Homo sapiens: one gene and its partners. The protein of the gene in region 1 purifies or fractionates together with the protein of each later gene. This does not show direct contact. Each region holds a gene or a part of one and is shown in the gene's direction. Other genes may lie near its edges. The genes, in order: PDIA5, ACAD11, TSPAN7, SLC35G2, TSR1, NOTCH2 and MBL2.

Region 1 (3,500 bases):
TATTGCCACCCTACATCAGCAGGGCCTCTTTCCACATACCAGTTTGCAACCACTTCTAAATAATTAGCTTTGTGATCTTACATTGGGGGGTTGAAGACACTCATGGAGTGTGGGGTTAAAAGAGCCTTTATTCCTCAAAGTCATACTGAGGCCCCAGTCTGATGCACATTCCATTCCTAGATGGTGTGATGGTGGGCCTGTGTCTGGCTTCAGAGTTTCCAGCTCACTAGAGTTGCGGGGGCGCAAGGGTGGAGTGTCCATTCCCTGCAAAGAATCCTACAGTTCCTCCAACCCCTTGGCGCAGGCAGATTTCTGGAAGTCGTGAGCAGGTCCTTTAATCCTTGTTGGAAGATGTTGATGAAAATCAAGGTTGAGGGTTGTAAACTGGGGCTTAAACATAAAGGTGATCCAGTATCTGAGCCCAGATGTGGGCCTGGTAGGAAAGCTCTGTTGTTTGGGCCAAGTAGGGAAGGGTCTTGAGGAACGAGTGGGTTTGTTCTCATCACAGGGTCTAGTCTTACTGGGTCCTGGGCAGAGTATTAGTACATGCCCCTATTTCAAAGGAAGGTGGACCAACATCAGCATCCTACATGTGCCACAGATGTTCATTCATTCAACAGATACTTCTTTTTTTTCCCAAATGGATATTTCCTTGAGAATCTTTTATGAGCCAGGCCTCATGCTAAGGCATTGGGGATAACCATAAATAAGACAGACACCATCTCTTTCTCTCATGGCCTAGTGGGACAGCCACTGATTAATTATTTAATTCAGGTAGTAAGTGCTGGAAAGAGAAAGTGTTAATATAATGTGGTAAGAGAATGTATAACAGGGATCCCTAACCTAATTCAAGGAGTCAGGAAAGCCTTCTCTGAGAACCTCTGGGTCTTTCTTAGAATAATGTTTTTAAATGTATAAAGTAAAATGCATAGAATTACAAAGAAAGCAGTTTTATTGAAATACAGTTATCAAAATATAACAACAAGGTTGTGATAAAATAATATTTATGTTTATTAATGCATCATATAAAAAGATCAAAGGTACAAGCTTGATAACTTCTATAATTTTAAGTTGTGATGAGCATAAATAGTGTTTCAGGATATCTTGTAATGTGATAAGAAAATATGATTTCTGTTGGTGGCAAAGTCACAGACACTGCTACCCTAATTACTACTGTAATTTGTTATCTACATTCATAAATGTAGAAAGCATTTATACATTTATAAATACATTCATAATACAGGAAAGGCTAAATTTCAGTTAGAGGTTAGTGAAGATAAAGATGTCATTTTTCTCCATCCAAATTCGTAGACTACAGTGGAAAAAAATTATATAACACTTGGAAATAAAAGATGATTTTGTGACATTTTAGTATCATACTGGAGTATTGTATAAGAAACCACCTAAGGACCAGCTGTGTTCTAGGGGATGTAACTCTGTTTATTATTTTTTATGGGCCATACTTTGTAAAGTTAAGTAGGATGCAAATTATTTCTGTTTGGTAAAGAAGAGAAGCACAAAGATTATTGCCCTGAAGGACATTAACCTGTTGGTATCTAATGTAGCAATCTTATATCAGGATTATATCCTCTTTTTTAGGGTCTCTTATTAGCGAGTTAAGTAAAACTTTGAAATATGCTCAATACCTATTTGTATGAGAATTAGGCTTTTAACATTTTAGAACTGTACTTGACTCCAGTTCAACTGCTGAGTGAGCAGGACGTAAAGATGTGTTGCTTAGAAGAGAGGTCTGATCTGGAGATGTTAATTTAGGGGTGCTGTTCAGGAGAGTGGGTGAAGTTGGCTGGGGGACCATATAGGGTAGGAAGAGAGGGTAGACTGAGTGAGCTGTGGAACTTCAACATTGAAAGAATGGGGAGAGGAGGGTTTACAAAGAAGAAAGGAATGATTGCTAGAGAGGTAGGAGGGAAACCAAGTGTCGCATCCAGTTCAAGAGGCCAAACAAGATGAGAACTGGAAGTGCCTGTAGGGTTTATCTATAGGAGGTCATTGTTGAGCCTTCACCAAGAGCCTTTTTTGTGGTGGTTGTGGGGAGGGCAGATTTCAGAGGGATGAGCAATGGAAGGAGGGAGGAGAATGGGAGGAGCAGGGGAGATGGAAAATTCTGGCTGTGAGTGGAGAGGGGAGTGATATGGGGTCCAGAGAGAGAGTTTTTAAAAGATGGGTCAGTGATGGAGTTTCTTCACCTTAAGGAGATATGTGTAAAATGGATTCCTGGGCTCCCAGCCCCTGGAGATGTTTTTCTTCAAGAATAAAGCCCAGGAATCTGTATTCCCAGAATACCGAGCTCTGCGGTAAAGCTACAAAACTAGACACATTTCCAAGTTAATCTTATATGGCTGGTGGTATTTTGCCAGCCGAGGTGGGTGCTCTCAATTGAGTGTGTAGCACAAGTTCTGCTCACATTGGAGCTGTGTCACCATTGTCTGCTTGGTGTCACTTGGCCTGAGCATGTGCTTTTCTCTGAAGGGATTTGGGGGTTTGTGGACATGCTGGTAGCAGAGGGAAGATGGATCAGGTTGTCATTGTAGCTCTTTTCAGCAGGTCACGCTCAATAGCTGGATTGGAAGGGACAGCAGACTTGCCAGCCTCTCGGGTATTATTCTGGGTGGAGCAACGGGGAGTGGATGATGCTCCAGGGATGTCTGTGGGAACTATTCACATTGACAGCCCAAGAGAAAAGCATCAGATCTGTCCTGGCGGGGACCTGGCTCTACTGTTTTAGGCTTAATCCGAGGCAAATCCCTTCTCTGAGCCTCAGTTTTCACATCTCTAAAGTGGGGATAGTACCACCTCTGCCTATAAACACTCATTGTTTATGACAATTTTTCAACTCCTGCAAGAACAGTTATACATTTTACAGTGTAACCCAGTACACACTGGGCTCACTGAATGCATAGTGTTGCTACCTGTGCTACTCACTGATGTTTTCTAGTCAATGTAATTTTTTAAAAATGCTACTGTAACTCACTGATTTTATGACTAGACTCCTGGGTTGAGACCTGAAGGGTGGAAACAGTGGCTTAGACTCTCAGCTTCAGAGGATGAAATGAGATCATGTGTGTAAAAGCATGGATGTACACCGTGGGTCATGAACACTGAGTTGTTATTTTCTTATCAGTTAACGGAGCTTGGAGGCAGAGTTGATTTCCGGAGTGGGAATTCACCTGCTCTTCCTCCCTCCCTGCTGCCTAATTCAATGTTCCCTCTACCAGTTCTTCCTCGTTAACAGGCCTGGCACACCAAGCTGGCGGTGATCCAGACCCCTCTTGGCTCAAGAAGAGGTTTTCCAAAACATTAAAAGCTTTAGGGACTTAAGTCCTGGCTAAATGCACTGCAGTTGCAATTTCAGGATAAGAAAACCTGTTTTCATAAGCTCTCAGATAAGTTGCCCTGCCCCTGAATTGTCCATTGTTGACAGCAACATTTGTGCCATGGGGAATAAAAAGGGGAGACACTGTGCTGCGTAGCCCCAAATG
Region 2 (3,500 bases), 9.6 Mb from region 1:
TATTTAGATTGATAGAGAATTTAAAGTCCAGAAAGCCTTGTTTTCAATTGGATTCCCCGTTCCCAAGCCTATACTGTACTGCAGTGATACTTCTGTCATTGGAACAGAATTTTACGTAATGGAACATGTGCAGGTAAATTAACACTTAATCTTATTTTGTTGCTTTTACTTTTAATTATGAAGTTAATTAAGATGTTTTATTATGATACTTAATAAATGATATAGTTTGTTATTTAACATTTTAGGTAATTAGATTGCATTGCAAAGGTTTACAATTTTGTTCAAATTTGAGCACTTACAAAGGGAGGGATGGAATAGACAAGAAACAAATTTAGTAATTAGGGGGTATTGACTTATTCTTAAATTTTCCTCTAGGTGTCAGTAAAGAGCTATCTGTAATGGCAATAACCAAATTGTCCATAAGGTAGCAGGGAAAACAGACTCCACATAGGTCAAGCCATTAAGAACAATAAATTCAAAATGTGTTTTAAATTTTTTCTGTAAAATAGTTGAGAGTAGTTTTGATGTTTATATTCATCTTGGCATATCCTTTTATTTTCCCTTTGGCATGTATACTCTAATATTAAATATGTTTCACAAATGAATGTTTTTCTAGTATATTCGACAAAGTATTGATTATACACATTTAAATAATCTGTTGTAATCACTTCCATAGGGTCGAATCTTCCGTGATTTAACAATTCCTGGACTTAGCCCAGCAGAACGTTCAGCCATATATGTGGCCACGGTAGAAACATTGGCTCAGTTACATTCCTTGAATATACAGTCACTGCAGCTGGAAGGATATGGTATAGGTGCTGGGTACTGCAAAAGACAGGTAATGCATCCACATTAATAGCTATTTTTTTCAAGTTCTTGTAAATAATATACCTTATTAGTCAACAAAAAAAGCTATTATTGTATAGTTTTCTGAAGCTTGGCCATGACTTTTAACATTGTCCTTCAGAATGACTAGTTTTTAGTATAAAATTATCTTATGTTTTTATATTAGGTTTTGTTCAGCAAAATCTTCTGTTTTAGACTCTTAATTTTCCAATACTTTTAACTATACAGTTTTTTCTTCTTCTTCTTCTTCTTCTTCTTCTTCTTCCTCTTCCTCTTCCTCTTCCTCTTCCTCTTCTTCCTCCTCTTCTTCCTCCTCTTCTTCCTCTTCTTCCTCCTCTTCTTCCTCCTCTTCTTCCTCCTCTTCTTCTTCTTCTTCTTCTTCTTCTTCTTCTTCTTCTTCTTCATCATCATCATCATTTTGAGACAGAGTCTCCCTCTGTTGCCCAGGCTGGAGTGCAGTGGTGCAATCTCTGCTCACTGCAAGCTCCACCTCCCAGGTTCACGCCATTCTCCTACCTCAGCCTCCCGAGCAGCTGGGACTACAGGCTCCCGCCATCACGCCCTGCTAATTTTTTTGTATTTTTAGTAGACATGGGGTTTCACCGTGTTAGCCAGGATGGTCTCAATCTCCTGACCTCGTGATCCGCCCGCCTCAGCCTCCCAAAGTGCTGGAATTACAGGCGTGAGCCACCATGCCCGGCTTACAGTTTTTTCTTTCTCAATTGGACTAGCAGACATTTATTAAGCTTGACTGTGTGTTTAATACCTGCTGAGTACTGTGTTAAATATCAAGAAAAATATACAATAGGTTCTTCCCCACAGGAACTTATGGTCATTTTTGAGAGACCTGTACATGCATGTCATTCACGAAACCTGAAAATGGTATAAAAGAGTGTAAAATCTAGTGGTAAATTGTTTGATACTCACCATGATTCAAAGGGTGGAAGTTGGGATGCCCTTGCTTATATAGAGAAAGCTTCCTGGGAGAGATATCTTATAATGAGTATTTAAGGAAAGATAAAATTTGGAGTGATGGAGATCATTTTAAATTAAAGGAAAGCAATACTAGATATATATGGGGCTGCTTTCCTTTGTAAGCATATCATTTTGTGGGGGTTAAGGAAGAGAAAAGGGAACTAAAGTTTAGAGTGTACTCACTATATGCTAGGTCCTACATGGCAGAGTGAGTTGTCGGCCTCTCTTTTTTGATCTTTACAACAACTCTAAGATATAGGTATTATTACTCCCATTTTGCAGATGAAGAAAGGGAGGCTTGCATCAATCAAGTAATACACAAGTAAGTGGCTTAGATATAATTTAAACCCAGGTTGATATGACTAGATAAGACCAAGTAAAGGTCTTTGCTCTATTGCACTAAGTTGAGCAAAGATACCTCGGGAAATGGAGATAAAAAAGCAAATAAACAATATGGTCCCACCTGTTGGAGGACTTTACGAGTAAGTTGATTTGTTTGCATTCAATTCTAAGAACAATAGAAGATCTTTACACTATTCATACCTGTAAAATATTTAGAAAATTCTGTGGGTAATAAGAAAGAGTATTAAAATGAAAAGTAGGCTGGGCGCGGTGGCTGAAGCTTGTAATCCCAGGACTTTGGAAGGCCAAGGCAGGCGGATCACGAAGTCAGGAGTTCGAGACCAGCTTGACCAATATGGTGAAACTCCGTCTCTACTAAAAATACAAAAATTAGCTGGGTGTGGTGGTATGCATCTGTAATCCCAGCTACTTAGGAGGCTGAGGCAGGAGAATCACTTGAACCTGGGAGGTGGAGGTAGCACTCCAGCCTGGGCAACAGAGCGAGACTCTGTCTCAAAAAAAAAAAAAGTAAATGTCTTCTTTTTTCTTCTAGTCCCCATATTCCCTTTTTCAGGGGTTACTTATTTCTCGTGACCCTTTCCAGAGATTATCTATGCCTATATATTTGTGTGTGTGTGTGTGTGTGTGAGAGAGAGTGTGTGTGTGCGTGTGTGTGTTTGTATGCATTCTTTTTTTTTCTTCTACAAAGTAGTTGCTGAATAAAGACTAGAACCCATATCTCTTGATCCCTAGGCCAGTATTTTTCTCTTGATAAAAAACTAGGTAAGTAAAATGGAACTATATGGAAAAGAGACTTAAATGTTTAAGGTTTAGGCTGATTTGAGTGTTTTAGGATGACAGGAGTATCACCAGCATGGGTCTTAAGTATTTAGGAGTAAAACAGCATTTGAATTTTGTTTTAATTTTAGAATTGCTAGATCCTACATTCCAGTTTCAGCTTTACCATTTTTCTTATTTATATGTCTTTAGGTATCAACCTGGACAAAGCAATATCAAGCTGCAGCTCATCAGGACATCCCTGCCATGCAACAGCTATCGGAGTGGCTAATGAAGAACTTGCCCGATAATGACAATGAAGAGAATTTGATTCATGGAGATTTCAGACTAGATAACATAGTTTTCCACCCTAAAGAGGTACAGTTAGCTATGTTTACAATTAATTGAGTAGGTCTGTTTTGTGACACAGTACTAAGTAAATGCTCCCCCCAGAGCACTGAGGGAGCCCAACCCACTCCCTGTTCCCCTACAGCTCAGGACTGTCGTCACCACTCAAAATTTTTAGAAAGGAGTCCTGCAGATTTTCCAGCATAAGTTAG
Region 3 (2,938 bases), on another chromosome or scaffold:
ATGGTGCCCATACTGCTCACCCATGTGGCCAGGCAGGTCCAGCAGGGCAGAGACTTGAGACCTGCTCCCAGGTTCAGGCAGGAAGAGAAATGGCTATGGCTGGCTTCTGCCAGCCAGATGCACCAGGAACTGCAGCTATTTATGGTGCTGTCAGCCTCAGGGGTCCTGAAAGCTGAAGTTGGCTTCCAGACGTCCATAGATCCAGGGCATCCCTGGGACAATGGTGGCCACTTACCAGATGCCTGTTCACAAAGAACCAGCCCTACTGATTCTGGTCAGTGACCTGGAACCAGACCTTTGGCTACATGTGTTCAGAAATTTTAGAGCCAATGTCATAGTAAAATTTAGCAAATGTTGGCTGATATTGATGAACCAGTTGTGTTGGCCTATGCCTTAGCCTTCCTATAATAAAGAAGGCTCTACTAAGTTAGAGGCCACAGAGAGGACAAAGTAGGTAGGAAAGAACAGAGCTCGCTCTCTCTCTTCCTCCCTCCCACTTTTGCTCTCCTGCCCTCGACCTTTTTCTTGCCCTTTGCTTTGCTTGCTCTTGTGACCTCCGTGCTATCATCTTTTGGAAGAAACTGGCCATGCACATCTATTGTCTCAAAGATTAAAGGTGGTATAAAGTATTAGGAAAACTAAGCTGGGTCTAGCCTTTTAATAGACTGGGCAAGAACTTTGTCCCCTGTTAGCTAACTTAGCTAATTGAAAGCTCCTGAGTGCTGTTTTTGAACAGCAGCAGGGTTGTGTCAAGCATTAAACACTTCTCTCTACAAACGTCCATTACCTTTGCCCTCTCAAGGTAAACCTCATTTGTCTGGACTTGATGGGCAGGGTCTGCTGCCCTATAAATTTATAGCAGAAGGTTGAGTGTGTTTAGTAGGGTACCTCTTCGCTGCATCTTTGGCAACTGCTCTTTCACTCGAGGGCTTGTGGGGAGAGTGAGAGATGGAGCATGCACGCACATCACCCCTGTCCTATCCCCACCCCCAAAATGGCCTGGAAGACAAGAGCCATGGGATGTCTGGGCATGGACATGTTTATTGTTCAATTTGTGACATTGTGTATATGTACATATGCATGTGTGTCTGTGGTGGGGTGGTGGGGTGTCCTCTGGGCTTCTGTATTTAGTACTTCTGTGTCTAAATAGACCCAGGGCTTTGCTAGACTTGGAACCTGTTAGGCTGGATTAATTCCCCATATCACGTAATATTATAGTCCTGAGTAAAGACAGTAGAGCTGTTTTCCAGAAGGGGAGGGTTGAGTGACTCGCTTGAAGTTGGGCAGCTACTATAGATCCAGGATTATAATTCTGACCTCTTCACCTGGCTTGCTGTATTAACTTTTAAGGCCAGAGATCACCCTTGTTCCTGCCACTGATAGCACCTGAAGGGAATTCATTTTGTGCTTTTATAACAAAAAGACTTCAGTCTGTGAAATTCAAAAGGAAAAGGTACTCATAAGAAAACACAGACCCTATTACTACCCATCCATTTTCTAACCCTCACCCTCCTGTCTGGCCTCCTCCAGGGTCTAAATGCTGCTAAGGTGATTCATTATGTGCTGGTCATTCTTTTCTTTTGGGGGGCCCTTGAGAAGACCTGTTTACCTTTTCTATGTAGAGGGCAGGACAGAGCTGGGGCTATTCTTAGATAGGACAAGAGGGTACAACCTTAAGCTCTGAGAATTACCTGTGTAGCTTGGGGTGTATTCTTTAACCTCTCATAACCCTCAGTTTTCTTATCTGGAAAACTGAGATTGTAATATTGTACAGGTTGTGGTAAATATTCAGTACAGGCTAGGTACAGTGGCTCATGCCTGTAATCCCAGCACTTTGGGAGGCTGAGGCAGGCACATCACTTGAGCCCAGGAGTTCAAGACCAGCCCGGTCAACATGGCAAAACCCCATCTCTACTAAAAATACAAAAATTAGCTGAATGTGGTGGCGCACAAATGTAATCCCAGCTACTCAGGAGGCTGAGGCAGGAGAATCACTTCAACCTGGAAGGTGGAGGTTGTAGTGAGCCGAGATTGCACCACTGCACTCCAGCCTGGATATTCAATATAGTCATCACTCCGTATCTGCAGGTTCTGTATCCATGGATTCAACCAACTATGGATTGAAAATAACAGTACAACAAAAAATAATGCAAATAAAAGCAATATAGTATAGCAACTATTTACACAGCATTTACATTGTATTAGGTATTATGAGTAATCTTGAGATGACTTAAAATATAAAGGAGGATGTGCATGGGTTATATGCAAATATTACACCATTTTGTATCAAGGACTTGAGCATCCTAGGATTTTGCTATCCTTGGGAAGTCCTGGAACCAATCTCCAACAGATACTAAGGGATGACTGTAATCTGTTCTACCTGAATGTGTTATATACCTCTGACACTTATTTGATTTTTGACATTATCAAGTGTGTTCTGGTGTTTGTTGGTTCTGGAAAATGGAAGTTCTAATAAAAAAGACAAGCTATAAGGTTCAAGGTCGTTACACTCATATTTTAGTTTCTCATTTGGCAGAATATTCTAAAGGTTACAGCCATGGTATCTTCAGCCACTTGGCAGTAAGTGCATGCGACTATGTATTTTATGGCACCAAATGATGTTGGCCAGAGCCTTGGTAGGAGATAGAACGAGTCCAATAAGATGATGATGCCTCCTTACCTGAAAGCGGTTATAGTTTGCATATTTCACAGCACAATTTTAATTTGAAAAAGGAAGATAAGAGATGAGAACTGGAACCTGCATGGATAGGTTAAGAGCCAGGAGAATGGAGTTCAGGTGTTGCCCTGACCAACAGTGGGACCTGAAGTGGCAGCAGGTGTTTCACCTATAAGATAAGGGTGACTAGGTGGACTGGATGAGCAGTTCCCTGCCCTGGAAGACTTGTTAAAACACCAGTTACTGGGCCCCACCCCCCAG
Region 4 (3,132 bases), about 14 Mb from region 1:
GGCTAAATTTAGTATTTTTAGTAGAAATGGCATTTCACCATGTTGGCCAGGCTGGCCAACTCCTCTCAAACTTCTGGCCTCAAGTGATCCGCCCGCCTCAGCCTCCCAAAATGCTGGGATTACAGGTGTGAGCCACCGTGCCTACACTGTCATTTTTAATAGATAGCATAGTATTCCATTGTATGAACATTCATTGTAGTAAGCTACAATGAACTCTCCTGTATGTACATTTTCCCCACATTTTTTGGTATATTCTTTTTCTTAAGTAACAGATAAACATTTTAATTCTATTTTTGGATAATATCACAATTCAAAAATAAAAATGTAAAAAAATAAATAACAAAAAGGTTTTCTTCCATTCTTGTTCCTCCTGTCACCTGAACCACCATTAGTTTTCTTGGCATCTTTATATAATTTCTTTGTTATGTAAACAAATATAAATACGTATTCTTATTCCCCCCCTTTTTTATTCAGAATGTAAAAAGCATCTTGTGATCATCTCTTTAGCATAAAATCTTAAAAGTGGTATTGCTGAGTAGAGGATAGTTAAAATCTTAATACATATGGTCCAACTGTTCACGAGAGAGGTTGTACAATTTAACCTTTCTACCAACAATGCATGAGTGTTACTAAATTCATGTTATTTATGTTCTAATTTCAGTGTATTTTTATATCTCAAAACTTATGGGGAGTCCAGAATAAATGTTTAAAAATCACTATAATTTATAAGGTGAATTCTGGTATTATACAGAATTGATTATACAAAATACTTTGGACTTAACTAATAATTTATAACAGGCAAATGGACCCAATGAGAAGGAAAGGTTTGACCTAAGTTATTATTTATCTTTCTGTGTTTTGCTTGTTGGATAGGTGGAGAAACAGGTAGGAATGAAAAGATGGAAAAATCCGTTTGTGGTATAAAGATAGAAGATAGAGCTGAATTAAACAAGTAAGCAAAGAGAAATGGAGACAGACTTCAGATGAGAGTGAAAAAAGGGTAAACAATTCCAGTAGGTACCATACATCTGATAAGGCATATTGCCAGATCATCTCTAATTTCTTTTTTTTCTGGACTACTGTTACAGCCTCTACTTTCTATCATTGAATTGATGCATATGATTATAATAGAAATTAAATTTTCAATGAAATGAATGTCTTTTTGTCAATTTTTTTCTTTAAATAGAATTGATTATCTGAAGAAATGGATACTTCTCCCTCCAGAAAATATCCAGTTAAAAAACGGGTGAAAATACATCCCAACACAGTGATGGTGAAATATACTTCTCATTATCCCCAGCCTGGCGATGATGGATATGAAGAAATCAATGAAGGCTATGGAAATTTTATGGAGGAAAATCCAAAGAAAGGTCTGCTGAGTGAAATGAAAAAAAAAGGGAGAGCTTTCTTTGGAACCATGGATACCCTACCTCCACCAACAGAAGACCCAATGATCAATGAGATTGGACAATTCCAGAGCTTTGCAGAAAAAAACATTTTTCAATCCCGAAAAATGTGGATAGTGCTGTTTGGATCTGCTTTGGCTCATGGATGTGTAGCTCTTATCACTAGGCTTGTTTCTGATCGGTCTAAAGTTCCATCTCTAGAACTGATTTTTATCCGTTCTGTTTTTCAGGTCTTATCTGTGTTAGTTGTGTGTTACTATCAGGAGGCCCCCTTTGGACCCAGTGGATACAGATTACGACTCTTCTTTTATGGTGTATGCAATGTCATTTCTATCACTTGTGCTTATACATCATTTTCAATAGTTCCTCCCAGCAATGGGACCACTATGTGGAGAGCCACAACTACAGTCTTCAGTGCCATTTTGGCTTTTTTACTCGTAGATGAGAAAATGGCTTATGTTGACATGGCTACAGTTGTTTGCAGCATCTTAGGTGTTTGTCTTGTCATGATCCCAAACATTGTTGATGAAGACAATTCTTTGTTAAATGCCTGGAAAGAAGCCTTTGGGTACACCATGACTGTGATGGCTGGACTGACCACTGCTCTCTCAATGATAGTATACAGATCCATCAAGGAGAAGATCAGCATGTGGACTGCACTGTTTACTTTTGGTTGGACTGGGACAATTTGGGGAATATCTACTATGTTTATTCTTCAAGAACCCATCATCCCATTAGATGGAGAAACCTGGAGTTATCTCATTGCTATATGTGTCTGTTCTACTGCAGCATTCTTAGGAGTTTATTATGCCTTGGACAAATTCCATCCAGCTTTGGTTAGCACAGTACAACATTTGGAGATTGTGGTAGCTATGGTCTTGCAGCTTCTCGTGCTGCACATATTTCCTAGCATCTATGATGTTTTTGGAGGGGTAATCATTATGATTAGTGTTTTTGTCCTTGCTGGCTATAAACTTTACTGGAGGAATTTAAGAAAGCAGGACTACCAGGAAATACTAGACTCTCCCATTAAATGAATACCTGATTATTATTGTCTCATTAATGTTCAGTTATTATGTATACTGCCATTTTAATGTTTACCTATGAATGTCTTTTGTGTTATATAACTGACAGAGTGCTATAAAATATATAATATATACAAATGCAGAAAATTTATTCTAGTCTAATATATTCAAATACAAATATTAAATATATGAAATACGTTATGAATCTGGTATCTTTATTGGTATTTATGGGTGTCTTTCCAGGTAAATTGTAGTAGAAGGAGAATGTTAACTGCTATTACTAAATAATAGAAGACTCAAAGAAATGACCCCTTTCAGATGGAACTGAAGTTCAAAAATTAGAAATGTTCTACAAATGTTCAACAAAACTCCTTCATTTGTGAAAAATACACTATAAGGTGAAATGTTGAACACCAAACCCTGTTTTGTCATCTACTTGCATTAGAAAACTAGAAGTCATAGGGCTGGGTAAAGGAGCCTGGGTTGAGGCAAGAAAAGAGGAAAGAAGGGAAAATAAGTGGTTTTTTAATGACAATGGGTGGCTGTCCAAAGTTAGAACAGGAAATTGGTTTTCTCCTTATTATGAGCACATTAGGCGATACATAGGAAATAGAAATAGGGAGAAGTGTGGATTCTTGCCAGTCCTACCTAGCCCATGCCATTTTGTCCCTGATGTTTGGAGACCTAACGTTGGGGTAGGG
Region 5 (2,281 bases), on another chromosome or scaffold:
AGCAGAGGTAGGGGTCCTGAGATACTGAGAGACTACTGGACGGGACTTGCAGCAGAAATGATTGTCTCCTACACAGTAGGAGCAGGAAGATATGTTGCCCACTAACTTGGGGGCTTCTGAACATCGTCCTAGTTCACTCACTCTCAGCAGTGGCAGGAGGAATATGAAGAAAGCAGTATTAATGGTGTTTTGGATAATTTTTATTCTCACCAATTGTGAGAATCACAATCTCTAAGTGAGATTAATTTTTCTTTGCCTTAAAATATTTTATTTTCCTTTAAGTTTAGTATTTTAAAAAGGAGGTGAGGGCTACCTTGAAGGTAGAACATCAAATACAGTCTAGGCTCCAAGATTCTGACTCCAGATAAAAAAGTTACTGATCAGGCACCTGCAATTCCAGCTATTCGGGAGCCTGAGGCAGAAGAATCACTTGAACCTGGGAGGTGGAGGTTGCAGTGAGCAGAGATGGCACCATTGTACTCCAGCCTGGGCAACAAGAGCGAGACACCATCTCAAAATAAATAAATAAATAAAAAGTTACTGATACAGCCTGGCGCGGTGGCTCACGCCTGTAATCCCAGCACTTTGGGAGATTGAGGTGGGTGGATCACAAGGTGAGGAGTTCGAGACCAGCCTGGCCAACATGGTGAAACCCGGTCTCTACTAAAAATACAAAAATTAGCCGGGCGTGGTGGCATGTGCCTGTAATCCCAGCTACTCAGGAGGCTGAGGCAGGAGAACTGCTTGAACCCGGGAGGCAGAGGTTGCAGTCAGCTGAGATCACACCATTGCATTCCAGCCTGGGTGACAGGAACGATACTCAAACTCAAAAAAAAAGAAAAAAAAAAAGTTACTGATAGGACTAGATCGTATCTTTTAGGTGCATTGAGGCAGCGAAAATTTTTGAGAACTGGTGGTTTAGAGAAGTAGAAGCTGCCATAGGTTTAAGAGTTGCACTAATACAGCTTTTCACAGGCCTCTATCACCTCTGGTTTCTCAAAATGGTTTTGCTTTTCATTTTTTAACCCTTATGGCAGCGGACAAACATAAATTGCAGAGATTCCTGACTGCTGACATGGCCCTGGTGGCGACAGTCTATGCGCCAATCACTTTTCCTCCTGCATCTGTGCTGCTTTTCAAGCAAAAAAGCAATGGTAAGTTGAGCCACAGAGATGAACAGACCCTGCAGGTCCTTAATAGATGAACACCGTTTTCTCTTGTTTATTTAAATTTGGGAGCCAAATGGTATGGAGAAGGTAATGATGGTTTTCAAAATACAGTAAGTCTTCATTTAACATTGTTAATAGAACAATGAAAACTCCAACTTTTACGTGAAACAGTGTATAGCCAGTCCTCAAATAACTGCCTTTTGTTCAACATCCTTTCCTTGTAACAACTGATGAGAAAAAGTATGGTTTTGTTATACATCATTTCTCTTGAAGTACAAGTTTTCAAGAACCTATTGACAAGGTTAAGTGTGGGCTTACAGTTTACCAATCTTAGCCTCAGATTGGGCTAGGGCAGGGATGACAAACCAGGCTCTTGCATGGGTCTTTAAATGGACTGGGCAATAAATGAAGACTTTGGCCTGTAAATTCCTAAATAGCTTCTTTGCTTTTGTCCTTTAGGAATGCACAGCCTCATTGCTACAGGCCATCTTATGTCAGTAGATCCAGACAGAATGGTCATCAAGAGAGTTGTTCTGAGTGGTCATCCTTTCAAAATTTTTACTAAGATGGCAGTAGTACGTTACATGTTCTTCAACAGAGGTGGGTATGAAGGAGGAGGATGGGATCTGATTGCCTTTGTGGTATAAAGGTTGGGTTTACATTTTGTGGGTAAATGTTTCATCTTGGTCTTTAATGTGTTTGATTCTAAGAGGATGTGCTGTGGTTTAAACCAGTGGAACTGAGAACGAAGTGGGGCCGGAGAGGACATATCAAGGAACCTTTAGGTAAGGAAACACGGGATTTGAGACCATGTCTGCATTTCTGCAGTGTTGCTAAATGACTGTTGGGTTGGAAGTCATTGCTTTAAAATTTTCTACTTTTAATTTGACCGACTTGTTCTGATGTCTTTCTAGGTACCCATGGCCACATGAAATGCAGCTTTGATGGGAAGCTAAAATCTCAAGACACAGTACTGATGAACCTGTATAAACGAGTCTTCCCCAAATGGACTTATGATCCATATGTACCAGAACCAGTACCCTGGCTGAAAAGTGAGATTTCTTCAACAGTGCCTCAAGGGGGCATGGAGTAATGGATTCAAAGAGATTCTG
Region 6 (3,500 bases), on another chromosome or scaffold:
AAAGAGAAGAAATCCAGTTGAAAGCTATTTTTCACTGGGGCTTCTCAGCAGGAGGCCTGGCTCTGTGTTTCTTGAAGCAAGTGACTGAAAGAAGGCCCAGAAATTTAAAGGCTGAATGTGTACAAGTGCAGGGGTATTCTGCATAAAAGACACCAAAATAGGATTGAGAGTCAAGTGTGTAAATGACAGGAGAGAGAGCTCTCACTGGGAAAGTTTGGGTCCTCTTTGCTGACTTCTGCAACTAGAGTCAAAAACGATCTGTGCACAAATATTCTGCATTTCTGGGTTTGTAATCACATTTTGTACTTGGGATTGGATTTCAGTAAGCCAGATGTTCCCTATTACACATTTCCTTTTACACAGGCAAATATTATACAGAAAGGCTAGAAATTATTAGAAGTGAACTTCTTTATTATCTGACTGCTTGAGAAAGAAGTTATTTATGTAATTCAAGACATTAATTTTAGAGAATGGAGTCTTAAAGATTAAAGGCATCATGCATATAATTTATTTCTGATCACAGAAAAGCAAATTTAATTGTGAAAATTAATACAAAAAGTTAATATTTTAATTATTAGACCTACTTAGTTTAGGACAACTCAGATGAGCCACTTTCTTTCTTTTTGCAAATAGTTAATGCTTGTCAGAGAATCCAGATTTTGTCTTCCCCTGGCCAGATTCTTCTTGTAGAGGATAAGTTTCAAAGAGATTAAAAACCTTTAGCTCAGGTTTAAAAGTGGGGGGAGGACTCCTGGAGTCTTTTAGGGAAAGATATAATGTTTGTCTATTTACACCTCGAAGAAAGGAAATCTTACTTGTCTCTTTTTCTTTTAAATTCTCATAACAGGTTCATTCATTTTATTCAACCAGTATTTATTTAAAACTACTATATATGCATACTACTCTCAGAGGAGTTGAGAGAAGTAAAATAAAGCTCTCTTACCTCCAAAGTCAGAATTGGGGACATAAGATACATGAAATCATTAACCTGTATATTGGACTTGGGAAGAAAGAAATACAAAGATAAATATATAAAGGAAAAATATTTTGAGCTGTTATACCTGAAGCCTAGTAAGAAATGAAGGTGCAGTTAAAGCATCTCTGCAATGAAATTATTGATCAGTTGCGAAGGTATTTCAATTCTAAAATTTGATTTGGAAATCTTTATTTTAAGCACCTCTCTCCAGGCATACTTTCTAAATCAATGCAGATCGTCGTTTTCTACTGCTCAAGACCTGCAGTATTAATTGACCACACATCGAATGTGTAGAGTAAATGGATGTAGCTACACTTGTGTTCTGGTGTGGAATATCTGCCTTGGTCTTTGAGAATCCTTGATAAAATTCTTTCCAAAGGTTTCACTGGTGTGTTGTGTGAGGAGAACATTGACAACTGTGACCCCGATCCTTGCCACCATGGTCAGTGTCAGGATGGTATTGATTCCTACACCTGCATCTGCAATCCCGGGTACATGGGCGCCATCTGCAGTGACCAGATTGATGAATGTTACAGCAGCCCTTGCCTGAACGATGGTCGCTGCATTGACCTGGTCAATGGCTACCAGTGCAACTGCCAGCCAGGCACGTCAGGTAAGCCCACTCTGTTTATGTTTGGTATGGGGTTTTCACTGTTTCTCAAATCTGTTTACACAGATGTTTCAGACTGTTGGCATATGCTCAGATACCTAAAAAACAGTCCTGATTCTGAGAAGCACAGCCAAAGCCACAAACATAAATGTCTCAAGGCAAATGGCCCTAGCCAGTGGAGAAGTCAGAGACAATAGCTCTGCCAATCTGATGATTTTGTGTGTGTGTTTGTGTGTGTTTTGTTAAATAGAGGCATACCACTTCAAAAATTAAAATTAATGATTTAAAATTGAAAACCCTCTTTTTTGTGGCTATATTATCTTTTTTTCTTTAAGTTCCACCCCACCCAGATTAATAAATTCAGTCCTTCCTTCCTTCCTTCCTTCCTTCCTTCCTACCTACCTTCCTTCTTCCCTTCTTCCCTTCCTTTAATGTATTTTCTCTTTCACAGTTCAGTCTCTTTATTGTGACATGTTTCTTCAGTCACTTGTCTCTGGTGGGGCCTTAGCCATCTTGGGGGATTCTAAGGAAGAGGAGATACCTTACAACACACCACAGTAACTAAAGTAGAACGCAGAGCTGTCATTTCCTATCCTCGGAGTTCATCATTGTTCTCTGACCTTGGTTGAATGACTCCTTGTTGGTCGTGAGGACATGCTGCTCCTTTCTGGGGGGATGTGGAATTATTTTCTCAGGCAGCAGCATCTCACAGGTTTGGATGGTTCTGTTTTACTTATTAGATGAATGATTATGGTCACAACTATGGTTAGTGGACAGAGATGTACTATGTTCCAGATCAAAGGAAAATGTATTAGTGGAAGATTAACCAATGTGTGCCTTTGTTAGAAGGAAACCTGCCAATATAAAGGAGTGATTTATTGAGAACTCATTCTGGATGTAAGGAAAATGACCTATGTAGAGAGCAGAGGTGGAGAGGGTAGTTAGCTACCCTCATTTTCTTTTACTGTTTCCAAATCCATTTCTTCAAATTTGTCAAAGGCTCTGGTCTTTACCCAAGGCTTCATACATGCCAAGTTTGAAAACAAAGTCCTTTTTGAATTGCTCAAGCATACGAAAAACATCCCATGCCGTCACAGCTGAAAATGCCTTTCCCTCCCCACATTTAGATAACTCACTAAAAGGGCTGAATAGATCTTTGTGAAAACTTCCAAAAGCAATTTGCTTCCGGGCTGTTCCTCAGACATGAGAAATTATAGTAGGAAAAGAAATTTGAGAGATTTACAAGCAATTGACTGGATGTCTTTAGAATCGAGGGGCTTTAGACTTTGCTATCATTCCCATCATAATAAACATACTGGAAACCTGGGTGAGTGGTGGGTTGGCAAGCACTTTGTTTTCTCTGGCATTATATCATTATACCAGGATATATCAGGTGTTTTCTGGGGAGGACAGAGAGGGTATGGTATAAGTAGCTGTCACTGAGAAGGTGAGAAGTCAATATGAGTGATCTGTAGGCAGCATGGAAAGGAAGGCCCGGAATCTGTCAGAACCTGCCAAAGATGTTCCTGCAGTTATTTGGAGAATTAAAGCAAGCAACGGTCAGACAACATTAAAAAAATGTTGATCTGTAATGGGTGGAGAAAGACCTGGCATGTATCAGGGACCTGGGTGGAAAATCCATTAAAAGAGGCATTATGAATAGAGTCTGAAGTTCTAGAGTAAGAATTCCTGTTCCACTTATATGGCCTAAGTTGGTAGTTTGGTGTTTGGATAGGGGAGTGGATGGAAGAAATATTTTACAGTTTGTCAGCTAAAATTGTGGTAGTCACTCACTGGGTACTTAAAGTGAGATATACTACCCAGAGTTACCTTCAGTGCGTTCTCTCATCTGTGCTTTTATGATAGTAAAGTTTTAAGTAAGTTTCTTTGTGTTTCAAGTAACAGACCAACTTG
Region 7 (4,215 bases), on another chromosome or scaffold:
GATGGTTCAAGCCATTAACACACACGATACCCATGATCTTATAGTGCCAAGTGCTGTTCTTTTGCTTCTTATCTCAGTTGAGTGGCTCCTAGATAGTCAAGTCATAAATGTGTGTGCCCATGAAAACTTCTTATTATCACTCACTATTCTAGCTAATTCTCAAGTGCAATCAATACCTCCTGTTTCTCAAGTGTGCCTACCTTCTTAATCTAGCTGCCATTACCCTGACCCAGGCCACTGTCTTCTGCTGCTTAGATCATGGCAAGCACTTCCTTTTAGATCTGCTTTTCTCCAGTCCTGTTCCCCTCAACATCATAGCCAGAACAAGCCTTGCAAAATTCAAATGTGATCACCTCTCCACTACTGCAGTCCCTCTAGTGCCCCCTGGAAGGAAACCCAAAGTCTTTAACACAGTTTACAATTCTTGTTATGAGGATGAAATTTGAAGACATTGTGCTAAGTGAAATAAGCCAGATACAAGGGGGCTATTGTATGATTTCACATATATGAGGTACCTAGGATAGATGAATTCAGAGAGACAGAAAGTAAAACAGAAGTTACCAGTGGCTGTGGGTAGGGGTAAATGGAGAATTCTAGTTTAATGAGTTGAGAGTTTCAGTTTGGGATGATGAAAATCATCCCATGATGTGGTGATGATAGCACAACCGTGTGAATGTACTTAATGCTACTGAGTTGTGTGCTTAATAATAATGGTCAAAATGGTAAATTTTATGTCTATTTTACCACAATGAAAAACTGGAAAAGTAAAGTCAATGACTATAATATCATAAAGTGTAAGTAACATGAGAGAAAATAATTCAGGCTAAGAGGATAGAGACTGCTAGGTAGGACTATTTTAGAATAAGTGATCAAGGTACTGATTTCTCTGAAATTGGAATATTTGAATAGAAGAGAAAGAGCTAGCTGGCGATGCCCGTAAGGGGTCCAGGCATGGAGACATCAAATGAAGAGTCTGAGGCAGGAATGGCCTTAATGCATTAATGGCAGCAAGAGGTCTATGTGGTTTCATGGATGGGTGTGTGCGTGCATGCACGTGTCTGTGTGTATAGTTGGTGTGCATGAGCATGTGTATGCATTTGTGAGTATCTTTGTTTTTCTGTTGGAAACAAGGATGTCAACAGGACTAACTAGGTGAACCTAGCTGTGGTAGTTCAGCAATGAGATTTGCCAAAATGGATGGCAATTGAAAGAGGAATTGTGCTGTATTAAAGCAGACAGCTGCCGAGCACTGTATTGGAGGCTCCTAAATTTCTCATAGTTCTGAGAAGAGCTGTTTATTAATCTGGAGTTGAAGGCCAGGCCCAGGATATCCTTGTTCACAAGGTTGATTGGGCCCTACATTGCTGAGCCCAGCCTCCTCCCTCACTCTGAGGCATCTGCCAGAGCCCCAGGCTAGAGGGCCAGCGTCCTTGTCACTGAGTCCCTGCTCTGCAGAAACACCAGTAAGTCATTTCTGGTGAATAAATCTGGGTTTCCGGATCAAGGGTTTGGGGAGCTGACATGACCCTGGAGGCATGGAGGAGGCTTTCTAGGGGTGGGGGGAGTGGGATGGAAAGCAGAAATCAGGTTGAGGATGTCTCTTTTTCTGCTTGTGCTGGAGCATCTGTGACTTTCCTCCATTATCTGTTCATCTGCAGTGGAGACTGTCTTTGTTTTCAAAGGGAAACTTGGAGGCTTAGACCTATGGGGCTAGGCTGCTGAGGTTTCTTAGGGGGCAATAGCTGGAAGAAAGCTCTGAAGAACAAATGAAAGGTTAATACTGAGAAATGGGAGGAGGATTCAAGGCAAGTTTTCTAATTGCCAGTGGTTTTTGACTCACAGAACATGGGGAATTCCTGCCAGAAAGTAGAGAGGTATTTAGCACTCTGCCAGGGCCAACGTAGTAAGAAATTTCCAGAGAAAATGCTTACCCAGGCAAGCCTGTCTAAAACACCAAGGGGAAGCAAACTCCAGTTAATTCTGGGCTGGGTTGGTGACTAAGGTTGAGGTTGATCTGAGGTTGAGACCTTCCTCTTTGGATCACCAGCTTTCAGCTCAGGGCCTGCCAATGAGTAAATGATAGTTAACAGGTCCTGGAGGGGAATCAGCTGCCCAGATACAAAGATGGGATTCAGGTGGCAGATGGACCCGAAGAGGACATGGAGAGAAAGAGGAAGCTCCTACAGACACCTGGGTTTCCACTCATTCTCATTCCCTAAGCTAACAGGCATAAGCCAGCTGGCAATGCACGGTCCCATTTGTTCTCACTGCCACCGAAAGCATGTTTATAGTCTTCCAGCAGCAACGCCAGGTGTCTAGGCACAGATGAACCCCTCCTTAGGATCCCCACTGCTCATCATAGTGCCTACCTTTGTTAAAGTACTAGTCACGCAGTGTCACAAGGAATGTTTACTTTTCCAAATCCCCAGCTAGAGGCCAGGGATGGGTCATCTATTTCTATATAGCCTGCACCCAGATTGTAGGACAGAGGGCATGCTCGGTAAATATGTGTTCATTAACTGAGATTAACCTTCCCTGAGTTTTCTCACACCAAGGTGAGGACCATGTCCCTGTTTCCATCACTCCCTCTCCTTCTCCTGAGTATGGTGGCAGCGTCTTACTCAGAAACTGTGACCTGTGAGGATGCCCAAAAGACCTGCCCTGCAGTGATTGCCTGTAGCTCTCCAGGCATCAACGGCTTCCCAGGCAAAGATGGGCGTGATGGCACCAAGGGAGAAAAGGGGGAACCAGGTACGTGTTGGGCTGTTCTGTCTCTGCAATTCTTTACCTTCCAGAGGAAACTGCCTGGGGATATGAGGAGACTGATGTCCTATTTGAGTATATTTTTCTCAACTATACTGTAACTCAAAACAGAGATTCAGCTCTCATTCTCTGGCATCTCAGAATTCCACACAGCAGTTTGTGACTAATAGTTGTCTTGCCAGCCCAGGAAAGTGGCCCACAGGTCAGGCCATCCCGTGGGACACAGGATGAATTTTTCTTCTCTGGGTCATTGTCATGTCAGACCCCTATTCACTTCAGTAGGGATGGCACCAGGTTCAAGAGGCCAAAGAAGAGATGGAGTCAGCAAACAAACATAGGTTTTACTGGGGGAATCTGTTTACAGGGAGATCCAGCAGCAGTGGGCTGGACAGGAGAACAACAACTACTGGTAAAAACAAATGCAGTTAATTTTCACTTTGCACCCTCCCTGCAGCAACCTCCACGTGGCAACTTTATTTCTTAAGTTATTGCTCTCAGGTGCCCACCATACAGTTATTGAGAGCAGTGCTCAGAAAGGTCAGTCCTGGGTCAAGGTCTCCTTTCTCCTGAGAAGGGATTGGGCATCAAACTCTTGAAGAGAGAGAGCAAGAACATAGATATTAAGTCACATTTCCTTTGTCTTCCAACAGGCCAAGGGCTCAGAGGCTTACAGGGCCCCCCTGGAAAGTTGGGGCCTCCAGGAAATCCAGGGCCTTCTGGGTCACCAGGACCAAAGGGCCAAAAAGGAGACCCTGGAAAAAGTCCGGGTAAGGACCCCAGCAAGGTCTGAGCTGACTTCACCCAGGGTTCTGAGACCTTGAGTATCTGGTAAGAGGTGCCCCTTCTCCTGTTCCTTCAAAGGAAGATACCCAAATTTGCTTTCTGACCCAGTGCCCTCAGCCCTCTCTTCATTCTTAGAGCCTTAGGGAATTCCTATAAGTGCCTGAGTACAGACTTACAAACTTTTCAAGACAACTCCCTCATCAGGCACTCCCTGTAAGAGCTGAGCCTGGATTCTCCATCAGCTGAAACAGTCTAATGTGAGGCCCTGGTCCTAGAGGGAGAAAACAGGCCATCTAAGTGTGGGCTTATTATACCTATTTTTACAAAAGCATGTAACCATGGTATGTCATATTTTACTTCATAAGAAACCAAGCCAAAGCTTAATAGCTTAAAAACATAGCCGTCAATTTAAATCACAAGTCTGTGGGTCGGCCATGTGATTTCTCTGCTGGTTTAAGCTGGGCTTACCCACATGTCTGTGGTCAACTGATGGCCAATAGTCTCACTCATGTGTCTGGCTGTTGTCTGAATGTTAGCTGGAGTGATGAGGGTAATTGAACCACATCTCTCATCATCCAACAGGGCTTGTTCACATAGCAGTGATTACAGGATTCCCAAGAGTAGAAATAAGATAGGCTTTAGGCTTCTTGAAGACTCAGAGCACATTAT

What was found.
Region 2: the proteins of PDIA5 (region 1) and ACAD11 purify together in Homo sapiens (affinity purification with mass spectrometry; one large-scale study listed by BioGRID and IntAct). This does not show direct contact.
Region 3: the proteins of PDIA5 (region 1) and TSPAN7 fractionate together in Homo sapiens (co-fractionation; one large-scale study listed by BioGRID). This does not show direct contact.
Region 4: the proteins of PDIA5 (region 1) and SLC35G2 fractionate together in Homo sapiens (co-fractionation; one large-scale study listed by BioGRID). This does not show direct contact.
Region 5: the proteins of PDIA5 (region 1) and TSR1 purify together in Homo sapiens (affinity purification with mass spectrometry, with the first as the bait; one large-scale study listed by BioGRID). This does not show direct contact.
Region 6: the proteins of PDIA5 (region 1) and NOTCH2 purify together in Homo sapiens (co-immunoprecipitation; one large-scale study listed by IntAct). This does not show direct contact.
Region 7: the proteins of PDIA5 (region 1) and MBL2 purify together in Homo sapiens (affinity purification with mass spectrometry; one large-scale study listed by BioGRID and IntAct). This does not show direct contact.

Annotation. Positions count from the first base shown.
Region 1 is NC_000003.12:123,073,525-123,077,024, forward strand, and holds part of PDIA5 (protein disulfide-isomerase A5 precursor), read left to right. Parts: intron 1-3,500.
Region 2 is NC_000003.12:132,639,310-132,642,809, reverse strand, and holds part of ACAD11 (acyl-CoA dehydrogenase family member 11), read left to right. Parts: intron 1-7; coding exon 8-133; intron 134-676; coding exon 677-838; intron 839-3,153; coding exon 3,154-3,318; intron 3,319-3,500. UniProt on the Homo sapiens protein: Acyl-CoA dehydrogenase, that exhibits maximal activity towards saturated C22-CoA.
Region 3 is NC_000023.11:38,683,542-38,686,479, forward strand, and holds part of TSPAN7 (tetraspanin-7), read left to right. Parts: intron 1-2,938. UniProt on the Homo sapiens protein: May be involved in cell proliferation and cell motility.
Region 4 is NC_000003.12:136,853,257-136,856,388, forward strand, and holds the end of SLC35G2 (solute carrier family 35 member G2), read left to right. Parts: exon of another isoform or gene 1-1,013; intron 1,014-1,186; 5' UTR 1,187-1,204; coding exon 1,205-2,443; 3' UTR 2,444-2,632; downstream 2,633-3,132.
Region 5 is NC_000017.11:2,324,177-2,326,457, reverse strand, and holds part of TSR1 (pre-rRNA-processing protein TSR1 homolog), read left to right. Parts: intron 1-1,037; coding exon 1,038-1,154; intron 1,155-1,193; exon of another isoform or gene 1,194-1,628; coding exon 1,629-1,769; exon of another isoform or gene 1,770-1,879; coding exon 1,880-1,954; exon of another isoform or gene 1,955-2,083; coding exon 2,084-2,262; 3' UTR 2,263-2,281. UniProt on the Homo sapiens protein: Required during maturation of the 40S ribosomal subunit in the nucleolus.
Region 6 is NC_000001.11:119,961,663-119,965,162, reverse strand, and holds part of NOTCH2 (neurogenic locus notch homolog protein 2 isoform 1 preproprotein), read left to right. Parts: intron 1-1,355; coding exon 1,356-1,589; intron 1,590-3,500. UniProt on the Homo sapiens protein: Functions as a receptor for membrane-bound ligands Jagged-1 (JAG1), Jagged-2 (JAG2) and Delta-1 (DLL1) to regulate cell-fate determination.
Region 7 is NC_000010.11:52,769,985-52,774,199, reverse strand, and holds the start of MBL2 (mannose-binding protein C precursor), read left to right. Parts: upstream 1-1,415; 5' UTR 1,416-1,463; intron 1,464-2,540; exon of another isoform or gene 2,541-2,555; 5' UTR 2,556-2,564; coding exon 2,565-2,751; intron 2,752-3,413; coding exon 3,414-3,530; intron 3,531-4,215. UniProt on the Homo sapiens protein: Calcium-dependent lectin involved in innate immune defense. Binds mannose, fucose and N-acetylglucosamine on different microorganisms and activates the lectin complement pathway.